Linked DNA regions of Homo sapiens: region 1 is linked to region 2. A link means that fine-mapping ties the variant in region 2 to the expression of a gene that starts in the linked region. Tissue or cell type: whole blood. Region 2 holds a variant in brackets; the other region holds the start of a gene. All regions are shown on one strand. Distances are between the middles of the regions.

Region 1 (8,109 bases), 98 kb after region 2:
GAACCAACCCAAATGTCCAACAATGATAGACTAGATTAAGAAAATGTGACACATATACACCATGGAATACTATGCAGCCATAAAAAATGATGAGTTCATGTCCTTTGTAGGGACATGGATGAAATTAGAAATCATCATTCTCAGTAAACTATCGCAAGAACAAAAAACCAAACACCGCATATTCTCACTCATAGGTGGGAATTGAACAATGAGATCACATGGACACAGGAAGGGGAATATCACACTCTGGGGACGTTGTGGGGTAGGGGGAGGGGGGAGGGATAGCATCGGGAGATATACCTAATGCTAGATGACGAGTTAGTGGGTGCAGCGCACCAGCATGGCACATGTATACATATGTAACTAACCTGCACAATGTGCACATGTACCCTAAAACTTAAAGTATAAAAGCAAAAACAAAAAAAAAAACCCTTTATAGTGTGACCTACTCAGGGCTCCATTGGGCTGGGCTGGAGATGTGCATCAGGGGGAAACATTCATCACAATCCTATTTCTAAAGCCAGTGACTTGCATTTGTGTATCTCCTTACATTTGACAAACCATGTCCACATCAGTTACTTCATTCGATCTTGAGGAGCACCTGCAGAAATGTGTATTATTAATGTTTTTATTTTTAAGATGAGAAAACCATGTTATCCAGAGGAAAAAGTCTCTTTCTGAATGTAGACCCTTTGATTCCAGGAGGTTCTATTGCCACATTCTCTCCCATCTGCCCATTTGCTTCAATTAAAAAAAAAACCCAAACATCCCCATTTCCATCGTCCTTGCTGAAAACCAAAGTTGACGTCTTTCTAATGGCCCAGAGAAGAGTATGGGCCATAAAGTCTCCAGTTTGCGGCAATTCGTTAAGGTTTCCTTCAAGCACAATATTATATCAATATTTTATGGCTACTATAGAGGAATGTTACATTTCTGCCCATGGCGCACACAATTATTTGTACTTCCTTAGTTTTTTTTGAAAATCTGCTTGTTCTGCCAAGTTCTGAAAGACATGCTGTGACACTGAAACAAGATTTTGCAGTCTGTTTTCTGTAAATTTGTTCTTTAGCACGTTCACGTGTGACTTATATTTTCCATAGCATGTGCCTTTTACGCTTGTGTAGTAATTTTTTCCACTTTATTTTAGCACTGAAAGGTGGTTCGCCTAGTGCTTTGTCAACATGTCTTGCCTTCATTTTTTTTAAAAAAAATTCTTGGTACATGTATGTCCTCACCTCGCTTTTGAAACTTTCTTCATTGTCTTGCTTCAAGTGTGACAATTACATGTTTTCTGTGAGCCTCCCCTGCACAGCTCTTGGCTCTCTGGGGACAGGGCCTGATTTTCTTGCTCAGCATAGTACCCACTTGATCAGCACAGAGCCAGTCACACAGAACAGGCTCCACAGTTATGCATGTGAACGGTGAGCCCCATTTCCTTTCTTACTTGCTCATCTGTTTAACAATCATTTGAGTAATTTTCCTGGTGTAAATCACTCTTACTACCCTGTAAGGATTACACTGCTTCTTAGAGACCACAGACTATGGAGGCCCACTCCCTTCACCTTCTAAGTACCCACCCCCTTTGACTGGCAGTGTCTCTTGATTCATTCACATGTATCCATTTATGGTATATGGATATACCTGTGTGTGCTGTCTGCATGTGCATCAGAGGGAAGGTGAATTACATGTGTGAATTTCTAGATCAGTGGATACTTTTTCATTTTAGCACTAATTTTTTAGTTTAATTACATTTTATAAATCTTGCTGAAATGTATTTCACTCATGCATCTTTAAGAGTATTATTAAATGAGGCATGACTTTGCAGCCTGGTGTCTGACCAGCTTCTGACCTGGTGTAGCAGATGTTGAGGCCCTGCTCCTCACCACCCAACCCTGAGTCCCCCTGCAGTGGGATGGGCATTTCCCTGCCTGCTGACAGCTCCGTCCCTGGAGCCTGGCCTCTGCCTCTCTGCTGAGGGCTTCCTGCCACCCTTGGAACCTACTTAGCCCTGGCACAAGGCAGCTCAGAAGGTTTGCGATTTTAGCAGTCCTGGGCGGCACATCTCACCCAGTGGGGAAAGGAGACAGTAGATGTTGGAATGACTCTGAGCCACCATCTATAAAGTTCCTCCAAAGGTCCCAGTGGGACTGGGTCCCAGTTGCCACCGCAGCAACGCTCATTAGCGCACCCTCTATGGCTTTCCCCCTACTGGCTTCACTCTCTCCACTCCCTCACTTTGTTTCCCAGAATCACCTGCTCAACGAATCACTGGCAGGAAGGCCCTTGTCTTAGGTCAGGTTTGGGGACCCAGCGTATGCCAGCTGGGCTGCTATGGATGCTGCCTTCAGGGCTGTGTGGGGCTCTTGAGGCAAGGAAACATTTTTCAGGGTACCTCCATTTCTCCGGCCAGCCCTTGCTGCTGTCACCTCTCTTGCCTATAACATCTCCTTTCACTCCTTCCACTTCCTTCCCTTGAAAATAAGAAAGGAACAAGACTGTTGCTGCAACATGCCATGCACCCGTGCAGCTGTGTGCACTCTACATGCACAAGCTCATGCAGTCCTCACCACAGCCCCAGCAGGAATGTGATCGTATCTCCATGTCATCATAAGCAAACCAACACCTAAGGAAGCTGTGAACAATAAAGCTCACAAGAAAATGAAATAAGAGTTTTTAAAAATAAAATGTTTCTGTCTCCAAGATCATTTCCAGGATGTCCTGCTGCCTCACCCGGAAACAGAAGGGAAACAAAGAAGCTCGTCAGAAAATAAATGAAAACAAACTGAAACGAGAGCGTCTCCTGTTAGTAACACATATGGGTTTTTGTTTTAAGGAAACATGCTCTATGTTTTGATTGCCCTTATTTCTGTTTTCTTAGCTTCATTTAGCAAAAAAGATATAGGTGGACAGGTGGCAGGATGAACCTTCACAGACAGAAAGTGAACACAGTCAATCGAATCTTCTGTGGCTGGGTACTGACCATCTAGCCACCAGCATTCTACCCCAACCTCAAGCTTCCTCTGTGAATTGTATTCAGTCACTCAACATCCTATATACTAGGTTCTGTGTTAACAGTAACTGGAAGGAGAAAGAAGAGTGGATTTCTTCCCAGAATATGCCAGGTTTCAGCTAATTTCTCACCTCAAGACCTGTACACCTTCCTCCACCCTCGTGTCTCATACCACAGACATTTCTAACTCAGCATGTCTTTAGCTGGATACATTGTCTTTTCCCCAAAAATCCTAACTGTGTCTCTTCCCAGATGGACATCCATGTCAGCAACCTTGGTGCTCCAATAACCCTGCCTACACCACTCAGCCCATCTGGGAGAAACACTGAATTTATTCACCTTAACACGTTAGGTGTGTCCCCGTCAACGATCACGGTGCGTCTTCAACACCCGTGTTTCCATTATTTGGGGGCTACTATAATTGTTTCCACAGCGCCTGATCCTTCCCCAGGCTGAGGCTAGGAGAAGCCAAAGGAATGGAAACGACAAAGATGCCTTCATTCCATTATGCTGCAACCATTGTAGCTAAAGAACTCAAACTGTTAGTTAGTAAGGAGGAAACAAAGATGAGTCTTACCTGATCCCAGCTTGAGGAGACTCAGAACCAAACTGAGCATGAGAGCCATGGATGTGTTCTGTGAATGGACCTCACGGCATGGAAACGGATGACAGGAGAGGTGACGGATGGATTAGAGAGAAGAGGAGAACTGGCCTAATGCTCAAGGTGCGGAAGCCACGGAGAGGCTCTGCGTGAGCGGAGGGCAAACTGCGCTGTTCTGAGAGTCTACTCCATCGAGACACAGCTGTCATGTACCAGAAGTGTAGGGACTCTAGACTTTGAACCACTGCATAAATGTCTATATCTTATCAAGGAAGCAAAGATAGAAATAGTGTGGATAAGATTGGAGGTGAACTTTGTCCTGGGCAAAACGATGCCCTGTGTGGGTGAAACAGGAATGTCAGATGCGGAAATACTTTTCACGTCCAATCTGGCAGGCAGGGCTGTATGGCCATGGGATCTAGTCCTGAAAAACCTCATGTTAGCACTGGATAGTTTGGTGTCCAAGTAAATAGGCCATGCTCCATTAGTAGTAGCCTACAGCAGGTGACTTGACATTTCCTGGCACAGTCTGAGGTCCTTTTGCTTACCCCTCCATTCTCTGAAGTTCAGGGCCAGGACTGTAATCATGAGGCCAGATAAAAATAACTTTCCAGAACAAAACAGATCCTTAGTGTTAAACATCTGATACATTGGGAAAGGTGCCTGGGCAGGTTCAGACATGAGGAAACTTATTTATTATATAAACTAAGTTCCAGGGCAGCCACAATGAGAGATTTGCAGTCTTTTTAAGCACACGGAAACTCACAAAGTCACCACTTAACTAGATCAGAATGAAAATTTCCACAGATAACCATCAAAATAAACATACTCTAATCATAATGCAATTAAAATTAAAAAGTAATTCAAAAACATAGGAAACTCTATACACTAAGAAATTCTTATGTAACAATTTAAAACAACTCACGAGACTAAATCACAATAAAAGTTAGCATCTAGAATAGGACAAAATGAAAACACTGCATTTAGTCTAAAATCTAGAACACTGACAACACCAAATGCTGGTGAGGATGCGGAGCAACAGGAATTCTCACTGATTGCTGACAGGAATGCAAGACGGTACGGTTGTTCTAGAAGACAGTTCAGCAATTTCCTGCAAAATTAAACATACTTTTATCACCTAATCCAGCAACTGCACTGCTTTTTATTCACCTAAATGACTTGAAAACATATGTCCACATGAAAAATTGCACATGAATGTTTATAGCAGCTTTATTCATAATTGCCAAAAATGTTTGCAACCAGATATCATTCAATAATGATACATAGAATGTATACACAAACTATGGTACATCTATACAATGGAATATTACTCTGTGATAAAAAAAAAAAGGAAATGAGTTGTTGAATGTTGTAAGCAAGAGAGTAGAATAGAAAATTATTGATCTCATGCTGTCTCAGAAATACAGATTTACCAAGGATATATAGACCAAAATACCTTTTTATGAAGCTGCTGAGAAGGCACAGTATCCTCTCCATTCCAGTGGCAGCTATGCCCCACCCATGGCCATTCGAAGCCTAGGCCTAGGCCCAGTGGAACGGTCATGACCCAGGCTTCTGAACCTACAGGCTGCTCTGGCCCCCAAGGACCAAACAGTCCAACCCAGCAAGGAAGCCAAGCCTGGCCTGGTGAAGCAGTTGTACCCTCTCAAGCATGAGCCAAGCACCTTGACCCCAGAGAAGCATGCGCAATAGAATGGCAACAATACCCCCTTGTGTGCACACTAACTGGGGGCCCCAGACTCAGCCCCAGGAAAGCAATGTCTGAGATGGTGGAGCAGCTGTGCTCCCTTGGCACATAAAGCGGCCTGGTGCCCCACCTCCAGAAAAGCTATGCCCAAGCCAGAACACTGGTCTTATTCCCTCAGCACACAAACCAGCCCTGCATCCCACCCGAGGGAAGCTGTACCTGAGCTGGTGGAGTAGTTGTGCTCTCTTGGTGCCTGAGCTCAGTGTAATCTACTTTGCTACCACCACTCCCACAAATTACTGCAGTACGGGCCACTGAGGCATCCACTTGTCACTGACATTGATTATAGCTGAGAAGCTTCACAGAGACTACGCTACTGTGCCAGCCAGAAGCAGAGCCGATACACCCTACTCAGCACCCGAGGACCTATCAACAAGTGAAAGTTTTTTCTTAGAAAAGCTACTTTATAAGTTAGGAGAGGCAAATGTTCTACCAGATGCACATATATCAACACAGGGACACAAGAAACATGAAAAAGCAAAGAAACATGACTCTCCCCAAAAAGGCTGAGGCAGGAAAATCACTTGAATCTGAGAGGTGGAGGTTGCAGTGAGCCGAGATCGTGCCACTGCACTCCAGCCTGGTTGACAGAGTGAGACTCCATCTCAAAATAATAATAATAATAATAATAATAATAATAATAATATAACATTTTTAAAAGTCAGCAAGATTTGAACTAGAAATACCATTTGACCCAGCCATCCCATTCCTGGGCACATACCCAAAGGATTATAAAACATGCTGCTATAAAGACACATGCACACGTATGTTTATTGCGACACTATTCACAATAGCAAAGACTTGGAACCAACCCAAATGTCCAACAATGATAGACTGGATTAAGAAAATGTGGCACATATACACCATGGAATACTATGAAGCCATAAAAAATGATGAGTTCATGTCCTTTGTAGGGACATGGATGAAATTAGAAATCATCATTCTCAGTAAACTATCGCAAGGACAAAAAACCAAACACTGCATGTTCTCACTCATAGGTGGGAATCAAACAATGAGAACATGTGGACACAGGAAGGGGAACATCACACACCGGGGCCTGTTGTGGGGTGGGGGGAGGGGGGAGGGATAGCATTAGGAGATATACCTAATGTTAAATGACGAGTTACTGGGTGCAGCACACCAACATGGCACATGTATACATATGTAACAAACCTGCACGTTGTGCACATGTACCATAAAACTTAAAGTATAATTAAAAAAATAAAAAATAAATAAAAAATAAAAAGTCAGCAAGATTCAAGATAATATAGATAGACTATTGAAAGAAATCAGGAAAAAAAAATCATGGTATAAATTAGAAATTCAGCAAAGAAATAGACATCAAGAAAAATTAAACAGATGTCTTGCCATTAGATTATTCAATGAAGGAAATGAAAAAATACAATAGAGAGCTTCAATGGCAGACTAGATCAAGCTTAAGGACAAAAATAAAGTGAAAAGAAAGAATTTTTTCATGCAAACGGTAAAAAAAGAAAGCAGGGGTGACTATATTTATGTCAGATAAAGTAGGCCAGAAGTCAAAAACTGTTACAAGAGACTAAGATTGTCTTTAAGTAATAATAAGCAAATAAGTTAATCAGACTGTAACAATTATAAATATGCAACCAACATCAAGGTGTGTAAACATATAAAGCAAATATTAGTGGACATGAGGAAAACATAGCAAAACAAAAATACTGGGGAATTTCAATACCCCTTTATTATTATTATTATTATATTTTAAGTTCTGGGATACATGTGCAGGAAGTGCAGGTTTAGGTATATATGTGCCATGGTGGTTTGCTGCACCCATCAAACTATCATCAACATTATGTAATTCTCCTAATGCTACCCCTCCCTCCCCTAGCTCCCTACCCTCCGACAGGCCCTGGTGTGTGATGTTCCCCTCCCTGTGTCCATGTGTTCTCATTGTTCAACTCCCACTTATGAGTGAGAACATGCACTGTTTGGTTTTCTGTTCTTGTGTTAGTTTGCTGAGAATGATGGTGTCCAGCTTCACCCATGTCTCTGCAAAGGACATGAACTCATCCTTTTTTATGGCTGCATAGTATTCCATAGTATATATGTGCCACATTTTCTTTATCCAGCCTATCATTGATGGGCATTTGGGTTGGTTCCAAGTCTTTGCTATTGTGAACAGTGTCACAATAAACATATGTGTACATGTGTCTTTATAGTAGAATGATTTGTAATCCTTTGGGTATATACAGTAATGGGATTGCTGAGTCAAATGGTGTTTCTTGTTCTAGATCCTTGAGGAATCGCCACACTGTCTTCCACAATGGTTGAACTAATTTACACTCCTACCAACAGGCTAAAAGCATTCCTATTTCTTCACATCCTCTCCAGCATCTGTCATTTCCTGACTTTTTAATGATCACCATTCTCACTGGCACAAGATGGTATCTCATTGTGGTTTTGATTTACATTTCTCTAATGACCAGTGATAATGAGCTTTTTTTCATGTTTGTTGGCCATATAAATGTGTTCTTTTGAGAGGTGTCTGTTCATATCCTTCACCCACTTTTTGATCAGATTTTTTTTTCTTGTAGATTTGTTTAACTTCTTTGTAGATTCTGGATATTAGCCCTTTGTCAGATGGATAGATTGCAAAAATGTTCTCGCATTCTGTAGGTTACCTGTGCACTCTGATGATCATTTCTTTTGCTGTGCAGAAGCTCTTTAGTTTAACTAGATCCCATTTGTCTA
Region 2 (8,109 bases):
GGATTCCTTTATGAGTTGAAAGAATTTGTCTGTAAATTTTTCTAAATTTTCCGTTTATATCATCATATAAACTGTGAACAATGGCCATTTAATTTTTTTCTTTCTAAAAGTTATAACTTTTACATTTTCTTCCCTTATTGAAGTGGCTGCTAATAGTAACAGTACTCTAATATAATGTGGAACAGAAGTGTTTAATGCAATCTCCTTATGTTATGATTTTATTTTATTTTATTTTATTTTTTTATTTTATTTTATTTTTTTTTGAGACGGAGTCTCGCTCTGTCGCCCAGGCCGGACTGCGGACTGCAGTGGCGCAATCTCGGCTCACTGCAAGCTCCGCTTCCCGGGTTCACGCCATTCTCCTGCCTCAGCCTCCCGAGTAGCTGGGACTACAGGCGCCCGCCACCGCGCCCGGCTAATTTTTTGTATTTTTAGTAGAGACGGGGTTTCACCTTGTTAGCCAGGATGGTCTCGATCTCCTGACCTCATGATCCACCTGCCTCGGCCTCCCAAAGTGCTGGGATTACAGGCGTGAGCCACCGCGCCCGGCCTATGTTATGATTTTAAATGACACATTATGTATAATGTTTTCGGTATGTATTTAAAAAATTAGGTGGCTTATTATTTTGTATGATGTTTGCTGCAAGTATCTTTAGATATCTTTTTATCAGATTAAGCAGAGTCTCTCCTATTTCTAGATTGATAAAAAAAATTTTCTTCTATTTCTAGATTTGCAAGTGTTGAAATCATGATGAATAGATGTAGAAAGTTATCTGTTTTATTTACATCTACTAAGAAAATTATAGTTTATCTCTTTTAACGAATTATGTTATAATTACATTAATATATGTTCCCATGTTGACCTAACATTTTTTTCCAGGATAAGTTTGGTCATGATATATGTTTTTGTGGACTTTTCTACTTGCAAAATTTTTGGTAAGATTTTTACATTTTCAATTATGAGTAATGTTGGTAAAAATTTTTCCTTTTTTGAATTGCCCATTTCTCTTATGATACCAAAATTATGTTGACTCAATAAAATGAGTTTAATATTTCCTATTTTTCTGCTCTCTGGCCGACTTTCTGAAAGATACATTTTCTCTTTTCTTGAATATTTGGTAGACTTTGTATATAAAACAATGTGGGCCTTGTGTCTTCCTTGTGGGAAGACTTTTAAATGCTGAGTCCACCTCTTTCATGGTTACAAATTAGTCAGGTAGTCTATCTTTCCTTCGGATTTTGTATTTTACGTTTTTCTTCTTTTTTAAAAATTTTTGAGACAAAGTCTCACTCTGTCCCCCAGGCTGGAGTACAGTGGGGCGATCTCAGCTCACTGCAATCTCTGTCTCCTGGATTTAAGTGATTCTCCAGCCTCAGCCTCCAGAGTAGCTGGGATTACAGACACACACCACCACGCCCAGCTAATTTTTGTATTTTTAGTAGAGATGGGGTTTCGCCATGTTGGGCAGGCTGGTCTCAAACTCCTGACCTCAAGCGATCTGCCCGCCTCAGCCTTCCACACTGCTGGGACTACAGGCATGAGCCACTGCGCCTGTCCTGTATTTTACATTTTTCTATGAAAACTTTCACTTCATCATATTCAATAGAAAAGGAAAAAGTTATTCAAAGCAGTTTATCTTACAAATCTCTACTAAATCTTTAGTTGTGCCTTCTTGTTATTTCCTGCCTTGTTTAATTGTGCTGTTTCTCTTTTATTCTTAACTGATGTTGCCAGTTTATCTATTTTAATAACACTTCGAACCGTCTAACTTTAGATGTATTAATGTGCACTATTTGTCTTTATATTTCCATATTTCTATATCTTTAGGATTTCTTCCACTTTCTTTTGCTGTTTTCTGAAATATATATTGATGCCTAATATCAATATTCAGCTATTTCATGCTAATAAGAACATTTAAGCATTAAAGGATATATATATATATATTTTTGAGATGGAGTCTTGCTCTATCGCCCAGGCTGGAGTGCAGTGGCATGATCTCGGCTCACCGCAACCTCCGCCTCCCGGGTTCAAGCAATTCTCCTGCCTCAGCTTCCCAGGTAGCTGGGATTACAGGCACCCGCCACCACACCCGGCTAATTTTTGTATTTTTAGTAGAGACGGGGTTTCACCATTATGGCCAGGCTGGTCTTGAACTCCTGACCTCAGGTGATCCGCCTGTCTTGGCCTTCCAAAGTGCTGGGATTACAGGCGTGAGCCACTGCGCCCGGCCAGATAAAATTTTGACTCAGAAAACTATATTAGTTCTATTTTACACATTATGATAGATTGTAATTTTATTATCATTCAGTTTTAAGAATTTTCTACCTATCACTATGCTTTCTTCAATTTCTCAGTTATTTTAATGTTTAAAAATTTTTCAAACACATAAGAATTTAAACTATCTTTTGCTGTGGTCATTTGACTTTATTAAATTATGATTAGAGAATTTCATGTGCATGATATCTATGTCTGAAAATTTTCTTAAAACCATTGTATGTGTTTATATCTGGTAAAATTTTATAAAAGTTCCAAGTGTGGTAAAAATTAATGTATATTCTACAAACCTGGAGTGCCATCTCCAAAAATACGTTATTTCAGACTTATTAATTTTTAGTTCAAATAGTATATATTCTTACTCATTTTGTCTACTTATTTAATCAATTTTAGAACTCGAAGTATGACCTTTTTTCTTATTTCTGTTGATATTTTCTATGTTTTACATGTATAAGGTACATGTATATATATTTAAAATTTTCATATTCTTATACTGAGTGAACTTATGTTTTTGAAATAACTCTATCCCTAATGCCCTTTTTCTTACAACTTTGTCTTCCTTTTCTTGACACTAATATATCTGTTCAATTCTTCGTGATTAATATTTCTCGAGTATTTTTTATTTTCAATGAATAGCTCATATGTGCTACATTTTTCCTCTTATGAATTGCCATTGAGATTTTTAGTATTTGTCTATTTTTATTTTTATTTTTATTTTTACATTTTTGAGATGGAGTCTTGCTCTGCCACCCAGGCTGGAGCACAGTGGTGCCATCTCGGCTCACTGCAACCTCTGCCTCCTGGGTTCAAGCGATGAGATTTTTAAATCCAGTCTGAGATTCTTTGTCTTTTAACTGGCAAATTCAATCCTTTTAATTGAGTGTGATTCTGGAAGCATTTTAGTTTATGTAAATTTTCCTACTATTTGTAAATCCTTTCTGAAATTTTCTACAGTTTTATTCTGCTTCATGAAGGAGCAACGACGTTTTCTAAAAATGAAGAAACAATTATTTTCTTAGTCCTAGAGTTAATTTCCTTAAGTTTTGTTACGTGTTGAGTTGTGAGTGTTGCACCATGGGGGTATTGTGTGGTGAAGGAAATACTTAATTCTACTGCCTTGAAATTGTAAACT[A/C]TTCTACTTCTGCCTTATCAAATGTTTGGTTTTGTTTTTTATACCTCATCAATCTTTGACTCTCAAAACAAATCATTGAAGCTGGATGGTACTACACAACAATCCCAGACACAAGCTGCTGCTCTACCCTGGGTTACGTATGCACACACCCATTCCTTGCTCCTCCTTCTCCCCACTCACCTCCTATCAATACCTTGGATTCCACCTCATGACTCTGCTCAGCAAGGTGGATGGAACACAATATGCTCCCAGCATTTTCCTGGACTATAATGGAGATCTCCACATCATACAGGCTGTACCCATCTGCATTTGCTCTGGAGTCTGAAGACAAATCCTGTCCTTGTGGACCTTTCCACTTGGCTGTGGGCTGGGGGAACCAGCCTGAGGACAGGCAGAGTAACTGGATACCTCCGTCAACATATCCCACGATGGAAATGAGAGGAAGTGAGCCCAGTGCTGGGAAGAAAACAGGGAAAGATGAAAGCAAAGACCAAATTTCAAGCTTACAGCATTTTGAGTCTGGTTCATCAAGCCTGTACCCATAACACACATACATCCTTTTCTCTCTCTCTCTCTCTCACACACACACATCCTTTTCTCTCTGTCTCTTACACACACATCTTTTTCTCTCTCTCTCTCTTACACACACATCCACTCATGCTACTACTGCAAGCCCTTCCATGGTCTATGTTCATTCAACATTTATTTAGCAGCCACTATATATGCCTGGATATTCCTAAGTATGAAATAGGATGCAGTGAATAAGACACAGCCCCTTCTAATGAGAAACTCATTGATCAAATAGTGAGGAAACTGTATAAAATACATTTCATAGTGAAATGGCAACTATGAAAGCATGGTCAGGTTAGCACAGAGAAGAGTGCTTAACTGTCAGGGAAAGGCACAGCTTCCTGGAGATGACATTTGCACCCTTCTGTGTCAGAAAATAGGAGTTTTGTTGTGGTCAGGTCTGGGAGAGGGGAAGCATTTTAGACAAAAAGAGGCAAGTACAAACCACAATGTGAAAAGTTAACATGCCACAGTGATTTCAAGGACTCATGAATATTTATATTCCAGATGATGTATAAGAGAGTAGGGGTGTGAGACAAGATCTGAAAAAGGCACAAGGCAAGCCGTGGAGGTCATACCTTCACTGACCTGAGCAACGTGGACTTGCCCACAGCCACTTTAAGAACTGTAGACCAGTAAGGCTCTTACCAGCTTCCAGCAGGTGGGAGTTATGGCAAGGCCTGTATGTTAGAGAGGTCTCCAGGCAGCAGCATGGAGGAGGGACCATAGAGAACACTCCGGAGGAGAGTGACCCGCCATGCAACTACTGAAGTGACTCCAGTGAGAGAAAAGAAGGGCTGGGGAGGAGGAGGGCTCTGAGAAGGGGAACGGCAGGTGCAGAATCTATTTGAGAGGTTGAATCAATAGGACTGAACATCAAGGAAGGGTTTATTGTGACATTCAGATTTGTGACTTGGGAAATATGCAAAAGTACCTCTTATGTGGTTGACTTCAATTTTATGATTTAATATTGCCTTTTAACCACTCCAAACAGAACTTCCTCTCTGAGTGTTGTACTCTGTCATTCCCTAGGGTCTGGATCAGTGCATGGAGCCTAATAAATGTTTGTTAGTCAATAAATTAATGAAAGAATGATGGTGGTGTAAGCACCAAGGAAGGGGGCTCAAGTAAGATGATGTAGACTTCTCTTCCTTGCTCCTTTCTCTAAGTAAAATCATAAACCCTAGAAATGCGGCAAGCATAGGTGCATTTTGAAAAGTGGAAAGACTAAGGAGGACTGACTAGGGACCCCAGGAGTAGAAAAAAAACACAGCAGCTGAGCATCCTATGACCACTCCCCCACTCCCACCTCCAGCAGAAGTAGGTGGCCCAGCGGGAATCTTTCCACCCCTAAATGGCTGAAAATACATGATATACAAAGTGGTGCTGGCAAAAGAATTGATCATAAGCCCCATTGACTGGAGACCAGGGGAAGAGTACTTTTTCCCACTATGCCAGATGATCACCTCTCTCACAAGAAACAGTGAGGAGCAACATGGGAAAACACCTTTTACTGCCACAGTTAGTACTAGAAAGGATGAGCAGAATCTCCAGTGACATCAGTTAAGCAAAGTAGACCAAAATAACACAGTAAAGTCTCTGAAAATTAAATTGTATTTGGAGCCACAACCACCAAAAATAGACTAGGACCTGAGTCATAAATCTAAACATGGTGACTGCCTGCAAAACAGAAGCTTTACATAGGGTCTAGAGTATCTTACAATAGTTAAACCATTTAGATTTCAACTAAAAATTACCCATCATACCAAGAACCAATTAAATATCAACTTGAATGAAAATAGACAATCATGTGATTGCCAAGACCAACATGAATAGCTATTATTAAAATGTTTCAAAAAGCAATTATGAATTCTCTCAAAAAATTTAAAAAACAAAAACCATAGATGTTATAAAAAACAAATCAGAAGTAATATAACAGAAAAAAATGCAAAAACAAAAACTAACTGGGTAGCTTCAATGCTAGAGTGGAGATGACAGAAAATAAAATTATTGGCCTGGCATGGTGGCTCAGGCCTGTAATCCCAGCACTTTGGGAGGCCAAGGCGGGTGGATCATGAGATCAGGAGATCAAGACCATCCTGGTTAACACGGTGAAACCCCGTCTCTACTAAAAATACAAAAAAAATTAGCCGGGCGTGGTGGCAGGTGCCTGTAGTTCCAGCTACTCCGGAGGCTGAGGCAGGAGAATGGCGTGAACCCGGAAGGCAGAGCTTGCAGTGAGCGAGATTGCACCACTGCACTCTATCCAGCCTGGGCGACAGAGCGAGACTCCATCTCATAAAAAAAAAAAAAAAATTATTGAACTCCAGGATACAACAATGAAACTTAACCAGCATGAAAAGAGAGGAAAATATTTTTTTAAAGGGAAAAACAGATCCTCAAGGACCTATGAGACAATAACAAAATATCAACATTTATATCATCATAGTCCCAGAAGGAGAGGAGAAAGAGAGAGAGCTGAAAGAGTATTTAAAGAAATGATGGCTGATCTAATCAAATGAGGTGAAAGTCATGAAACTACAGATTCAAGAAGCTGAGAGCACACCAAATAGGAGAAATGTAAAGAAACCCATGCCTTGATAGATCATAATTAAATTTCTGAAAATAAAGAAAACACCAATGACAGCAGATTTTTCGTGAGAAATCTTCAAGGCCAGAAAGAAGTAGCACATTTTTCAACTGCTGAAAGAAAATAACCATCAAGAAACTCAGAAATTCTATATCTGGCAAAACCATTATTCACAAATAAAGAGGAAATCTTTTGCATATTTATTCTCAGATAAACAAAAACTAAGAGAATTTGTCACTAGCAGACCTATCCTAAAAGGATGGCTGGAGGAAATTCTTCAAACAGAAAGGAAATGATAAAAGAAAGAATCTTGGAATATTAGGAAAGAAGAAAAGCAATAGAAAAAGAAGAATAAGGAAAACTACAATAGATTTTCCATTTTATTAGTGTTTAACAATCACATATGTGCTGGGTGTGGTGGCTCACACCTGTAATCCCAGCATTTTGGGAGCCCAAGGCAGGGGATCATTTGAGGCCAGGAGTTTGAGACCAGCTGGCCAACATGGCAGAACCCCATCTCTACTAAAAATACAAAAAAAAATTAGCTGGGTGTGGTGGCGCATGCCTGTAATCTGAGCTACTCAGGAGGCTGAGGTACAAGAGTCACTTGAATCCAGGAGGTGGAGGTTGCAGTGAGCTGAGATCACACCACTGCACTCCAGCCTGGGTGACGGGACAAGACTGTCTCAAAGAAAAATAAAAAATAAAAAATAAAAATGAAAATTATATATGATGGTTTAAACAGAAATTAAGTCACTATCTGATATAGTGCTTATGTATATAGAAGAAATACTCAAGGCAATGTTATTTTTAAATTGTGGAGTTTGAAGGGCTCTGAATGAAAATGAAGTTTCCACACTTCAAAGTGGTAAAATGTTGATATAGTAGATTGTGATAAATTATATATGAATATCATAACACCTAAAGCAGCACCTAAGAAAACACTACAAAATGTTATACTAAAAAAAGACTAACAATAAGTTGTGATGGAATCCTAAAAAAAGTTTAGTAACACACAAGAAGTCAAGAAAAAAGAAGAAAATAAAAGAAATTGAAATATGACAGGCATTATCACTCTCATTTCACCAACATTGGGAGTGGCTTTCCTCTGTATCCTGTCAGGTGGTGGCAGGTGCAGGTGGCTGTCTTCTGCATCATGATCCCACCTGTGTGATGGCAGGGCCAGGCTCATCTCCAGAAACCTCAGGTCAGTGATCCCCACCGAAGCCTTTTTACATCATGTCAGAATCTGGAAAGTCTGTTTTATTTCATTATCTGAAATACTTTTAAGAGCTGATAATGGTAGCATGACTTTACAAGACAACTCAGTCATAAATAAACAACTGACCTGCCACCCGCAGCTCCCAGGTGGCCTCCTCATCGTAAATCTGGGAACTGAACCAGCACCCATACAGGCCGATGTCCGAGGGAGTGATGTTTTTTAGCCTTAGAGAGACACGCCCCCCTGCAATGGAGTCCTTCACAAACTCAGTTCTCCCTCGATACTGTGGCATCTGCTTAGATTCCCAGTCTTCCCCATCT

What was found. PIP is the estimated chance that this variant, and not a neighbour inherited with it, causes the effect.
Region 1: it holds the start of BTNL8, and the variant in region 2 is fine-mapped to the expression of BTNL8 in whole blood (GTEx, PIP above 0.99).

Annotation. Positions count from the first base shown.
Region 1 is chr5:180,894,838-180,902,946 of GRCh38, reverse strand. It overlaps BTNL8 (butyrophilin like 8), which reads right to left and starts at 3,788. Exons shown (of 8, transcript NM_001040462.3): 1 at 3,588-3,788. The coding sequence starts at 3,636.
Region 2 is chr5:180,992,967-181,001,075 of GRCh38, reverse strand. It overlaps BTNL3 (butyrophilin like 3), which reads right to left. Exons shown (of 8, transcript NM_197975.3): 2 at 7,916-8,109; 3 at 3,588-3,863. Among named protein-coding and RNA genes, the nearest start is that of BTNL3, 8.2 kb to the right of the region's middle. The variant A/C (reference allele first, on the strand shown) is at 3,408.